3 separate regions of the Homo sapiens genome follow, and regions 1 and 3 are each linked to region 2. The links come from fine-mapping of genetic effects on gene expression. A gene starts in region 2. Each other region holds a variant in brackets. All regions are shown on one strand. Distances are between the middles of the regions. Region 1 overlaps NEPRO-AS1 (NEPRO antisense RNA 1). Region 2 holds the start of BOC (BOC cell adhesion associated, oncogene regulated). Region 3 overlaps BOC (BOC cell adhesion associated, oncogene regulated).

Region 1 (4,241 bases), 72 kb after region 2:
AACCCAGGTCTTTGCTGTAAGAACCTTCATTGCACAAAGTTTCTCAATCTTATTTTATGCAAATATAACTCACATTCACCTATGGCTTTCTTCCCTTTTGTTATTAGGCAAATATTCTTTCCTTCTCAATTATATGCTTCTCTGGAGTCAAGTAAGGGTGGAGTAACAGTTGTACCTTTGTTCATTCACTTAATGGATGTACTAGTTAGGGTAGGCTGAATTGCTGTCATAAATACATGCCAAATGTATAATGGTTTGAACACAATAGAAGTTTGTTTCTCATATAATTGCTCAAGGGAGGTGCTCCTGGCTGAAGCGCAGCTCTCTTTCACAAGGTAGTTAAGGGACCATGGCTTCTTAGACCCTGTGGCTCTACAGACCCTTAAGGCCACGTCACCCAGCACACATAAAGAGTGTGGAAGAACACAGAATAATTGACCCAGACCTGTTGAAGGTATACAACACTTCCACTTACATCTTTGGAAAGAATTTAGTTATTTAGTTACATGGCTTTACTTCACTGTAAGGAAGACCAGAAAATATAGCTGTGCTCTGTGCCCAGGAAGAAGGGGAAGAAGGATTCTAGTAGATAGTCTGCAGACTGCCAAAATGACATAATTTTATTTCTACTTTTAACCACTGTTGTTCATCGCCTTAGTTTAATTTCTACAAAACTTCCATAATTTCTTGGCTATGTTGTTGGCTGACCACTGTAGCAAAGGAGGGTTGGGTGTGTGGTTCAGCAGTAGGTGAGCAGGAAAATCTCAGAGGCAGCATCATGGCAGCTGATGAGTCTGGAGGACTGGAGGGAACTGATGGTGCAGGAGGCCAGAGGAGACTGAGAGTGTGTGGCCAGAGGCCCTGTGCGGAGGTTAATCTGCTGAATAGTGAAAGGGGAAGATGACTGAGACAGGAAGAAACCAGGAGTATGATTCATTTGGCTTTGAGAAGAACTTTTTTTTAACACCTCAGCATGGGCAAGGATATTGTATACCTAACACTACATATGTTTCAGGAAGTTTCCGAGCAATGAAGTAGCTTCTCCAGTAATGTGTTTACATTTGATCAGTGAAAAGCTACTTATTGATCTCCCATGATGTACCTGGATCTATGCTAGGCTCTCTACTAAATACAACCCCTATTCTTTTTTTTTTTTTTGCTGGAGTCTCACTCTGTCACCCAGGCTGGAGTGCAGTGGCACGATCTCAGCTCACTGCAACCTCCACATCCCAGGTTCAAGCAATTCTCCTGCCTTAGCCTCCTGCGTAGCTGGGATTACAGGCGCCCACCACCATGTCTGGCTAATTTTTGTACTTTTAGTAGAGACAGGGTTTTACCGTGCTGGCCAGGTGGGTCTGGAACTCCTGACCTCAGGTGATCTGCCTGCCTCAGTCTCCCAAAGTGCTGGGATTACAGGCGTGAGCCATCACGCCTGGCCACAAGCCGTATTCTTAAAGAATTTATAATCCAACTAGTCAAACATAACATGTACCTAAAATAACTCAATAGCATAGGAGAAAACTGAGGGCAAAATATATGGATATCAACTCTCCAGATTAAAAAAATTCAAAAGAATGGTTGATCACTGAGGGCCAAGATAGTCAAGGAAGGCTCCATAGAAGAGGTTGGAATAAAATGACTGGGATAGAAAGGGAGACAAAGAAAAGTGTACCAGGACGGGTGGAAAAGGCCAGAATGAACAGTAAGAGCGCCAGGAGAGTGGTGGGTGGGGTGAAAGGCTATAGAGGTAGGCATTGGGCCCAACCATGGGTAATTTTGAAAATCAGGAATAGGCACCTAGACTTGGTATGGTAAGAAACAGAGAAAACACAGGCCCTCTCTTTTATCTTTACCATGATGTTTTCCAGGTTAAGAAATCTACTTGAAAGCATCTAACCCTTAACCTGATAGATGTTAGTAAACATTTATTCACCCCAGAGAGTAATACATTGGCGGTGGTGTGCAGAAAATACTTCATTCATTCATTCTTCAAGCATCTACTGGATGTTTTCTACATGCCACATTCTGAGCTAGACACAGAGGATGCAAAAATTATAATAAAGTCGTGGTATCTCCTTGGGGTTAGATTATCATAGACTGGATCCTCCTATATACTGGTAACCAAGAGGTGCACAGTTCCCATACCTGTGCTCTGTTTCTACCTTGCCCCTTGTCAAGGTAATGCTGTCTATCTCGCCCACTTAAATCTGACCCCAGAGATCACTTCTTGTGTTTATCTAAAAACCAGGGTTTGCGCCCATTTCCTTATGCTCATTAGGGCAGGTTAGGCTCCCAGTGCTGAGTTGCTGGTCTCCTTGGAGCACCAACCAAAACAAAAAATATCAGCCTCCTAGGATGTCTGGCAAGAACTTCTGAGATAAATCACATGAAAGTGTTTCAAAATCTGAGGGAGGCCATCCAAATGTAATGGATAATTACTATGATCACCACC[G/C]AAGATGGCCGGTCCTCCACTCCTTGGGGCGTGGTCTCTCAGAGCTAGGTTCTCATGATCATGTGTGTGCAAAGGGCCCTACTTACTTTTGGATTCTTTTGCTTATTGACTATGCATAAAAGGCCAAGTTTGGCATCCACAAGTAACTATTTTCAGGCATATTTATCTAGTTTAGCTGGAGCTAGTTTGTTTACAGACAATGTGGTCTGCACACAAGGCTGGGAGTTCAGGTGCTAAATAGAATTCCCGCTCAGTTTCTAGCCTGCTGTATGGCCTTGGGTAACCTGCATAACTTCCTTGTGTCAATTGGTTCTTAACTGTCACCTCAGAGCCATGCTGATTTGTCTAAGAGATGTTTGGAGAGGATGAACTGTTTATCACCTCTAAACTGATTTTTAAATACTGACGTAAAGACTCCTGGTTTCCAGTCTGACACATAAGGAACTTAGAAGTCACCATTCCATTCTAATAATAAGTAAGAAACCAAGCACAGAGAGTAAAACAATGGTTACCAGGGGATGGGAGGGGTAGGAAATGGGGAGAAATAGGTCAAAGGGTACAAATTTGTAGTTATGCAGGATTAGTAAGTCTAGAGATCTAACATACAGCATGAGGACTACAGTAAATACAACCTTATCATAGACTGAAAATTTGCCAAGAGAGTAGATTTTAGGTGCTCTTAACACACACACACACACACACACACACACACACACACACACGAAGTAACTATGGAAGATGATGGGTGGGTTAATTTGCTTGGCTGGAGTAAGCATTTTACCGTGTATAGTTATATAAAAATATCATGTTGTACACCTTAAATATATACAATTTAAAAAGCCAAACAAAATACAAAATCAGCAACTCTTCTTAGATCTGTCAGAGAAGTGAGGCCACAGGGCAATCACTGGCCCCAAAATTGGAGAGACAGACAGGTGGATACAGAGCATCCTATGGCATATCCCAAGTGATCACATTTTAACACAAAGAAAAACACCAAGAAATTCCAAAATGTAAAAATAGTGCAGAAGGCATTTTCTGTTCATGATGTAATATAGCCCGATCTTAATAATAAAACAAAATAATAAAACAACAAGATATTCTAATATCTGGGAAAAAAACCCCAAAACTCTTTTTAAAGCAACTCTTGGATCATAAAGAAAATCAAAATCAAACCTAATATTCAGAAAATAAGAAAATGTTTAAATTTAAAATAAAAATATGTTTTAAGGAAAGATAGAAGATAGAAGCTATGAAGCTATATGAAAAAGAAAGCAAGGAAATGAAAAAGAATTCAGCATGATCTTTATCTCTGGTGGTTGGAGGAGTAGTATGGACAGAAGCAGAGGGAGGGAATGGGAGGGGCAATATAGGTAGATGGAGTTTATTGTCAAGACGCATTGGGTGATGGGCCCATATTTTAAAAATTATGTTAAAAAATGGAAGAACTAAACAAAAGATGGCTATGCATTTACCAATGATGAGAGTGTAACATAAATTAAGGATGATGATTAATCCAATTCTGTGCCAAAAACTAATTTAGAAATAACTATATACTAGAACCTAAGGAGTGCAATTTAAAGCAGTGCTCAGAGGAAAATTCATAGTCTTCCATATGTAGAATAATAAAAAGACTGATAATGAAAGAAGTAACATCTGACTCAAAGAATTAATAAAAAGAACTGAATGATAATAATAAACCTAAAGAAAGTAGAAACTAAAAGCAGAAATTATTTAACTAATAACAAACAAAGTGGTATGTGTAGTGGTCAGATTGAAATAAATTATG
Region 2 (4,241 bases):
GCTCCCTAGCGAATGTCTCTTGCAGTGAAGCATTTCTGAAGTATCTCGATAGAGGATAAAAGAGACAGTGTCTGAGGTCTCAATCCTCAGGCTTCATAAATGTGTAGACACCCTCCAGCCTCCTCAAGGCCCAAATTCTGAGTGACAAATCTATACAGGGGAGGACAGTGTCAGCAAAGTGGCCCAATGAGGCAACTCTTCTTTCTTTCATTTTACCTCTTTGCATAAACTCATTTGAAAAACTCATAGCAGGAAAATAATAACTCTACTGCTGTTTCTGCCCGGCCTCTGTCCCACTGACCCCAAGGTGCTTTCAGATCACCACGAGAAGCTTCTGGGTCTCAATTATGAGACCATTAAAAAGTACCAATTATAAGACCTCAGAAATGTTTCTGGGAAACCTGTTACACACCTCAAAATGGCTAACCTCTTGCCTCAGATTTACTTTAAGTTCAGAAAACAGGTCACCCAGATGTATGGGCATCCTAGCCCCCACAAGCAGCCCAAGACTGTGGTTTAATATTTTCCATGCTGCCCTTAAGAAAACGAAGATTGATTTATTGGCTGTAACCAAAGGGATGAAAAAAACCATCACAGAGCTGGGCTGCCTGTTTAAGACCCAGTCGTGGAATAAATCAGAAATGTCTGCACACTGAAGTTTTAAAATGACATTCATCCAATGGTCAATGTGTACCGAGTTCTGGACAACAAAGAACTAGGTGACAAATGTGTGCTGGGCACAGTGCATCTGCAGGTGGCACAAGGGCCTGAAATCAAAATATAATCTTCACTCAGTCCACTCAAAGAGGTAACTCTGGGTCAAAAACTTAGGCGAACCCATTTGAACTTGCAGAGAAGGGATGAGGGGAGCAGCAGAACACCCCACCACACCCAAAAAGTGCCAGTTTGGGATTGCTGGTGTGTGGTTTCGGTATTCTTAGCTCTACTGCCACATCTCTGGAGGAGCACAACTCTGTTCCAAGCAACTCTGGCACTGCCACCCCCATCCCCAAAACAAAACTCTGCCAAACAAATCCCCGAGGCTCCATTAACTCCTTCAGGTCTGCCTGCCTCTCTCATCCCTCAGCATTCTCCCATCACCTGGAAAAGCAAATTAATACTGAACATCCTGAAAGTCAAGCAGGCCCTTCAACACCCCCATGAAAATTCTTCCTGGGTTCCCTGCCCTCCCCACAGCCCCGTCCCACTGGTTCCAGAGATTCATTTCCCACACCTTCTCACAGTTACATCAACAAAAACCCCAGGAGGACGCTGCTGGCGCGAACACGCACACACGCGCGCGCACACACGTACACGCACACACGAACTCTCTCTCTCACACACACACACACCTCTTTCACCTTTGCCCCAGCCCCTCAGACACCTCGGGCCACTCGGCTTCAGCCTCGCCCCTCTGCGCCAACAGCTAGGGATGCTTCCCTCAAGCTGCGTCGCTCCCGGTCCGCTGAGTTCCTCATTTTAGTGTTTTTCCTTTAGAAGACGCCAACTATGAGAAACCCTCACCCTCCAAAGAGGCCGAGTGCGTGTTGAGTGACTCTACGCATTTGCCGCCACGCCTCGGGTTCCCCCCACGGCCTGGAGCATGGGGCCGGGGCGCTGGTGTCAACCTTCGGTGGAAGTTTGGGAGGCTGGCTGGATCCTTCTTCCACCCGAGAAGCTTCTGGGAACCGCTGAGGCGAAACCACCATCGCCCGGCCAGACCGCTGCGGCAGGGAACGAGATGCGGCGCCCCTGGGCCCCGTAGCGGCTGCAGCCCCCGGGACCCCCGCTGCCCGCCTCGCCCCAACTTCTTCGCCCGGCGCCCGGCGCGCCCAGCCTCGGCCGCAGCTCCCAGCCCCGGGCGCCCGGCCGAGCGCTGGGACCCGGCTCCCGCCGCCGGCACGTCCCCCGGCAGCCACTCGCTGGCGCTGCCTCGGCCTGCGGCCGCCTCCCGCCCCCTCCTCTCCCCGAACCAACAGTAAACACAACTTTTTATGAAAAGAAAACAAACTTCAGCGACGTGACTCACCTCTGCTGCAGCCGGCGCCTGGGAAGGGCGAGCCGGGGCCCGGGGGCCAGCGTGGTGGGCGCGAGGGAGCCACACAGCGCCGCGCCGCACGGACACACAACACGCTCGGTGACACCGGGGACACACAACACGGGCGAGCGGCCGCGGCTGGAGCAACAAAGGAGCCGAGGACCGAGAAGTTGCGGGCCGGAGAGGGAGGGCGCGTGCGGGCGTGTTGTGGCTGTGGCGGGCGTGAGGGTGTGCGCGCCGTGTGTGCGCGTGTGTGTCTTTTCTGTGTGTGTTTGTGTGTCTCTGTGTGTGTGTCTGTGCGCGCGCGCGGCGGCTGACACCGGCGGGCCGGGGCTCAGGGTCCCCGCGGCAGAAAGCGGCGGCCGCGGGGGCGGCAGCAGGAGGACAACGCAGGGGACGCCGCGCCCAGCGCACCCGGTCCCTCCATATGGAAGAAGCTTTTTGGATGACTGAACTCGCAAACAATTCCTTCTTTTGCTTCTCCTGCCTAGGAGCCTCCCATTACCGTGCGAGGAGGAGGAGGAGGAGGGAGTGGAGGAGGCTGGGAGGAGGGGGAGGAGCAAAATGGAGCAAAGAAAAAGTCTTGGAAAGGAAGCTGGAAAAAGTCCCCCAAACTCTAGGGCAGTTTTCCCGTTAACACCCACTTTTTGCTGTGCCTCAGACCCGCGCTCTCCTCCAACTTCTTTTGCTTTCCCATACCAAAAGCACCATCTTCTCCCTTTTCCCCGAACCCAGGGGGCTCCCCTGAAGCCTTCACTTTCTCTTTAGCTTCACCTCGCACCCTTGCTCTTCCATGTACAATCCTTCCCTCCTTTCGCCTAGTCTCTTCCAAGACTTTCCTGACACCCACCTCTCAATGGTCTTCTTCTTCTGCAAGACAAACTGTTGGATAAATCATTAAAAGCAAACTCATCAGAAAATGGGACAGCGGCGGTGGAGAAAATGATAAGGAAACCAATCTCAGGGAAGCCTTAACGCAGCCTCCCCCGACCCCCTCGGTCGGTTGGGGAGGGTTTGCCGCGTCGTCCATTGACAGCGCCCTGACCTCCATTCATCATCCCAGGATGGAGCCAGGGAGGAATGGGGAGGGAGAGCTGGGGCTGGGGTTGGGGGCATGGGTTGGGGGTGCTAGTGGCCACGGAAAAGTTAGTTACCTATGCGTGTGTATGTGTACGCGCACGCGCGCGTGTGTGTTGGTCAGAAAACTTTCAGAGCTGTGGTTCTCAAACTTGATCTGCAGCAGGACTCCCTGGAAGGCTTGCTAAATCCCTTTGCTGGGCCCCACCTCCAGAGTTTCTGATTCAGTAGGTGGACCTGGGAATTTGCATTTCAAATAGGTTCCCAGGTGATGCTGATGCTGCAGGTCAGGGGCCACGTTTTAAAAACTACCTTTCCAGGGCAGTGAGAAGGCAAATGTTGAGTTGGTGGCAAATTGGATTCCCTTCTTATTTTTTAGGAATGAAGCACAGGTTGTGAGCGGTCATCCATTCCGTATCTTCATTGCAGCTGAGAAAACCAAGTCCCAGCAGGGCTAAGCCATTTGTTTAAAGTGAACTGGGAGTTTGTGCCAAGCTGGTGAGGAAGCTGTCCTGGAAATAAGACAGCCAGGCTAGTAGTAGGGTGAATGGGGGTGCTGCCTTCCCTGTGTGGCTGGACAGCTGCACTGGGAGTCAGGAAGCCACTGTGACTTTGGAAAGTCACTTAACTTTTCTGGGCCTCTGGGGGTTTTGTGTGTGTGTGTGTGTGTGTGTGTGTGTGTGTGTGTGTGTGTGTGTGTGTTTGTTTGTTTGTTTGTTTTTTGACAGAGTCTCACTCTGTCGCCCAGGCTAGAGTGTAGTGGTGCAATCTCGGCTCACTGCAAAGTCTGCCTCCTGAATTCGAGAGATTCTCCAGTGTCAGCCTCCCAAGCAGCTGGGATTACAAGCACCTGCCACCATGCGCGGCTAATTTTTGTATTTTTAGTAGAGACGGAGTTTCACCATGTTGTCCAGGCTGGTCTTGAACACCTAGCCTCAAGTGATCTGCCCACCTTGGCCTCCCAAAGTGCTAAAATTACAGGCGTGAGCCACCTCACCCGGCCCTGTTTTGTTTTTTATTAACTTGTTTCTTGTCAGTAAACATACATACTTTACACTGAGTATAGGACTCTAATTGAATCTGAACCAAAAGACCTTTACAAAGGAAACATAAATGTATTTTATTC
Region 3 (4,241 bases), 36 kb before region 2:
GAGTCTCATCCCAGTGCCACTACTTCTGAGCCATGTGACTCTAGCCTTGTGAAGTGTCCGTTTCTTACCTGTAAAATGAAGCTAATATTGATTGTCTCACAAGGTTGTCATGAGTCTTGCAAACGATATGTGTAAATTGCCTGCCGTGACACTGTACAGTAAGTGCACAATAAAAAGCAGTTATTATTATTACTTCTCCTCCTCCTCCGGTATAGCTTTGAAATGAGTCAAATACCAAACTATAACCAATATGATGTTGTTGTGATCATGTCTCATCTTGTGTTCTTGTGTCCCTGAAGGCCAATGGGAATAAAGTGTTCTTTGAAATCCAGGTAAAGAAGGCCTTTTTAAAGAGTTATTGTAGAATGCGGAATGTTTCCATTTGACTGTAAGGGCAGGGAAAGGGAAGGAAAGCACTCACTCAAGTCAGCAAAGCAGCCTGCTGTGGCTAGGAGGAGGCAAGCCAGTGTGACCTCAGGCCTCATTCCTCTCCACGCCGTCATCGTCCCACGCAGCATGGTGTATCACAAAGGTCTGAAGCCAACGTCCCATAAGCCGCCAGGGTCACACAAAGAGATACTGCCGTCCCTGGCAACACTCTGTTGTAAGAGAGAAAGGGAGAGCAATGGCCATGATGAGGATGCCTGGGGTGCACCTGTGGTGGCCACAGGGCTTGGCTTTGTCCCTTGTTCCCTGTTGGCAACATTCAAACTAGAGACCCGGTCATGCTGCTGGAAGACCAAAGAACACTATAGTGCCATTTCTCATCTAAAAGAAGCTTCTTATAAGTTGCCCCCTAGGGCTCTTTCTCTAGCTAGAAGGTGATTTTATTGTAGTAAGAATGCTGGAGTCTTGCCCAGTGGATGGACAGCAACGAGGAGGAGGGGCAGAGGATACAGAGAGGCTGAGGCCTGCAGCCATATCCATGGCACAGGACAGTGACTATCTGGCACAGATGCTAGAACAGATGAGATTATTCTTACCATTTGCTTGCAAAAGGCCAGCTGGTCACAGCCATGTGCCCTGCCATGTGGTTAGTGCAGACTATTGTGGGACAGCAGTGCCGTGTGTGTGATGCATACAGAACGCCCTTGCAGGGAATGCTACTAAGTGAATGAATCCTAGCATCTCAGTGACTCATGAAATATTTCCTGCTCTGATTTTCCTCACCCCAGCTCTATGCCTAGATCCCTGAAAACTCCCTTTTATTCCTGCAATCACCCTGCTCTCCTCAGCTTGTCCATAACATCTACTCCCACAGGTACAAACACAGCCCAAAGTCATAAGCCAGCCAAGACCCCTCACTTTCTCAGGGCACAGAGCCTTGTTTTCGCTTCACTCACTAGCTCCCACTTCTCTCTGCTCCCGGTGCTAGAAAATTTTGAACTTTTCCGTCTCTACAAAATCTACACTCTTGATTACCCAAGTTGTATCTCCACCCAGAACAACATTGCTTTGAGGCTCAGACCACACTGCACCTCCAGCCATCTGACAACACACCTCAGCTATCAGTCACCCTCTCTGCCTAGAACAGTAGCATCTCCTGTTCCAGAAGGCACAATTTTTTATGCCTTTCTTAAGCTATGGTCCTTACAAGATTTATCAAAATCACATGGGCAAGTGTATATTCTAACACACACACACACTTCTGTCACAGCCAAAACAAAGATTTTGCTTCTGTGCTTTTCACTGATGGGTTTATAGAACATTAACAAATAAGGATGGGGTATCAACAGCCTTATTAGGCAGGGAGGCATTGAAATGAGTTCGGATAACGTTGAAGGCAACATTCCAGTGATCTGCACGGTGGATCATTCACCTGTGGCAATATTAATAGTATATTTCTAGGAGTGTGACATACATTCAAAATGTTAACTCTTCTAGATCAATCTACCTAACCAGAGACTCTCTCGAAGATTTACAGTCACCATTTAAAACTCAGAAGTAGTTAAGCTTCTCAACTGAGAGATGTGTTGTGCTGGCCAGTCCTAGAGTTCAGGCTGCCTGCAGAGACTGCCGTAAGAAACAGGAGACACCCGACTTGCCTGACACAGGGGACTGTTGCTGTGTTGGGAAGTGCTTCGGATTAACCTAAACCTTTCCCTTCCCCAAGACCTGTGGTCCTTTGGCTTTCTGCCTGGCTGCAGAGGGAGTGAGGAGGGCCATATCCACACTGCCCAATGAGCACCCCTCCAAACCAGATGGAGGACCCCAGCCCCTAGCATTCTGTGGATGCTCAGAATGTTTTCCAAGAGTTCTTTCCCGATGGTTTGTATTTTCTCCCTTTGCCTCATGACTTTGACATCAGAGGACTCACAAGACTTCAGCACTACTCTGGGATAGGACAAGGGGATGTTTTCTAAAAGGGATTTGAAAGAACATTTTTAAAGAAGTTTTTCAAAAGTTATTTCCTGGCAAGTTAAGATAATTTCCCGTTGGTGTAGAGAGAGAGCTTTTGCTCTTTTTCAAACAATCCAGTAAATCAAAGGGTCATATTATTGGCAAAGTAAAATTCATGAAAGCTGCAAAGGATGTGAGTACAATTGGGAGGGGCTGTGGTGGTGGAAAGCTGGGGGTGCCTGCCACTACTCCAGGAACTCGCTAAGCTCTTACACAATGTATTTCCTTTAACCTTCTCATCAACCCTGCAAGGTGA[C/G]GACTATATCCCCATTTTACAGGAGAGAAAATTGAGTTCCAGAAGTGAAGTTGCCCAGGATCACATAACAGTAGGCCTGGATTGAAACCCAGTTTAGGCTGATTCCCAAACTCTGTGCTTTTTAATCACAATAGTAGCCTTTTTCCCTTTTTTTTTTTTTTTTTCCTATCAGGGCTCTGAAACCAGTGGGTGTTTAGCAAACAGAGTTGATGTAGAACAGTGGGACATTTTAACAGTGATTTCTAGAGGGAAAGTTTACACCAAAAAGTAAGCTTTTGGTTTCCTCTCAATTTTCCAGATACTTGCTTTAATTCTCTAATTTGCTTTTCCCCAATGAGATAAGGTATTTATATAGATCATTGCATGAGTTCCCAGTTATGGGATTTTAGGGAACTAGCTTGTTCAAGTCATGCCCCAATTTCCCCAGGCCCTTAAGGAAATTGAAAGCAAATGTTCCTTCCATGCCCCAAGAAGGGAAGGAAGGGAGGGAGGAAGAAAGGGAAGAAGGGAGGTAGGGAGACAGAAAATGAACATAAAGTAATGAAGGGCAAAAGAGGACAAGCAGACAAAGAGGAATGGAAGGGTTGTTTCTTATCTGAACACACGGTGGCTACGGAGGTGTTGGGTTGTAACAGCAACAAATATTTTACTGAGGAAATTCAGCCCAGACCCTCTCCTGCTTAACGAGGACCAGCCAAACAATTCCTGTTACTTCTGCACCCTCGGTAATTTATAAGGTTCAAAATGGAAACAGATCCTGTTGCTGCTGCCAGCCACCATCCTGCTTTCAAAAACAACAAGGAGAAAAGAATTGGGAGTGAGAGGGAGTGAGAAGGTGCAGGTATCCAGAGAGGGAGAAAGGAGTTAACCCATTAAGCCCCACAACACAGTTGTAAGAAGTACCATTTTAAGGACCCCAAAACAGGATGCGTGGGGTCTCATTCATGTAAAAGCAGAACTATGACCAAAAAATATGGCTATGTTTGGGGAAGGTTGGGGGGCTTGGTCACTGGATGATGATTATAAATAAATAAATAAAATTATAAATACATAAAATGATGCATTTTATTTAGTATCTGGGGAAAGTGAGTTACTTTTTGAACCAAGTTACCTAGTGAGTTTGGTTTAGAAAGATAATTCTAGAGATTTCAGTTACCTGAGAACTTTATTTTAATGTTTCGGGAAAAAAGGCAAGTAACGCTTAAGCTGGAGAACCTAATTGCAGTGTAACGTTGTCCCATTGTGAAATGAACAAAGTACAATTTCAAAGTTGGGTGAAGGCAACAGTAAGGCCTATTATTTTTCTTGGCAATGCAAAATATATCTAAGATCCTTCTTATTTTCCTTAGTCATTTTCTGAGACAAAGCAGAGAAATCAAGAAAAAAATATCAAAATCATTTGACACCTCATTGAGGCCTAGGTACTTGACAGTTTAAAGGGTTATTTGGACACACACAAAAAAAGAAAGAAAATGGGTCTGAAACATTTAACTGCTGACACACATGTTCTCCACTGAAATAATCTCTTCCAAACAGATGTTTTTGAAACTTTCCAAAAACAACAACAACAAAACACACTCTGGGG

Evidence for each region. PIP is the estimated chance that this variant, and not a neighbour inherited with it, causes the effect.
Region 1: its variant is the best candidate, but not a certain one, in a credible set for the expression of BOC in sun-exposed skin (GTEx, PIP 0.66).
Region 3: its variant is the best candidate, but not a certain one, in a credible set for the expression of BOC in sun-exposed skin (GTEx, PIP 0.69).

Annotation. Positions count from the first base shown.
Region 1 is chr3:113,137,723-113,141,963 of GRCh38, reverse strand. All of the region lies in intron 1 of NEPRO-AS1 (NEPRO antisense RNA 1), which reads right to left. Among named protein-coding and RNA genes, the nearest start is that of LINC02044, 28 kb to the left of the region's middle. The variant G/C (reference allele first, on the strand shown) is at 2,453.
Region 2 is chr3:113,209,805-113,214,045 of GRCh38, reverse strand. It overlaps BOC (BOC cell adhesion associated, oncogene regulated), which reads right to left and starts at 2,489. Exons shown (of 20, transcript NM_001378074.1): 1 at 2,030-2,489. It overlaps LOC124909486, which reads left to right. Exons shown (of 2, transcript XM_047449436.1): 2 at 1,766-4,241. The coding sequence ends at 2,491. RefSeq lists an enhancer at 1,477-2,128.
Region 3 is chr3:113,246,080-113,250,320 of GRCh38, reverse strand. BOC (BOC cell adhesion associated, oncogene regulated) reads right to left here. Exons shown (of 20, transcript NM_001378074.1): 3 at 422-599. The coding sequence starts at 518. Among named protein-coding and RNA genes, the nearest start is that of BOC, 37 kb to the right of the region's middle. The variant C/G (reference allele first, on the strand shown) is at 2,657.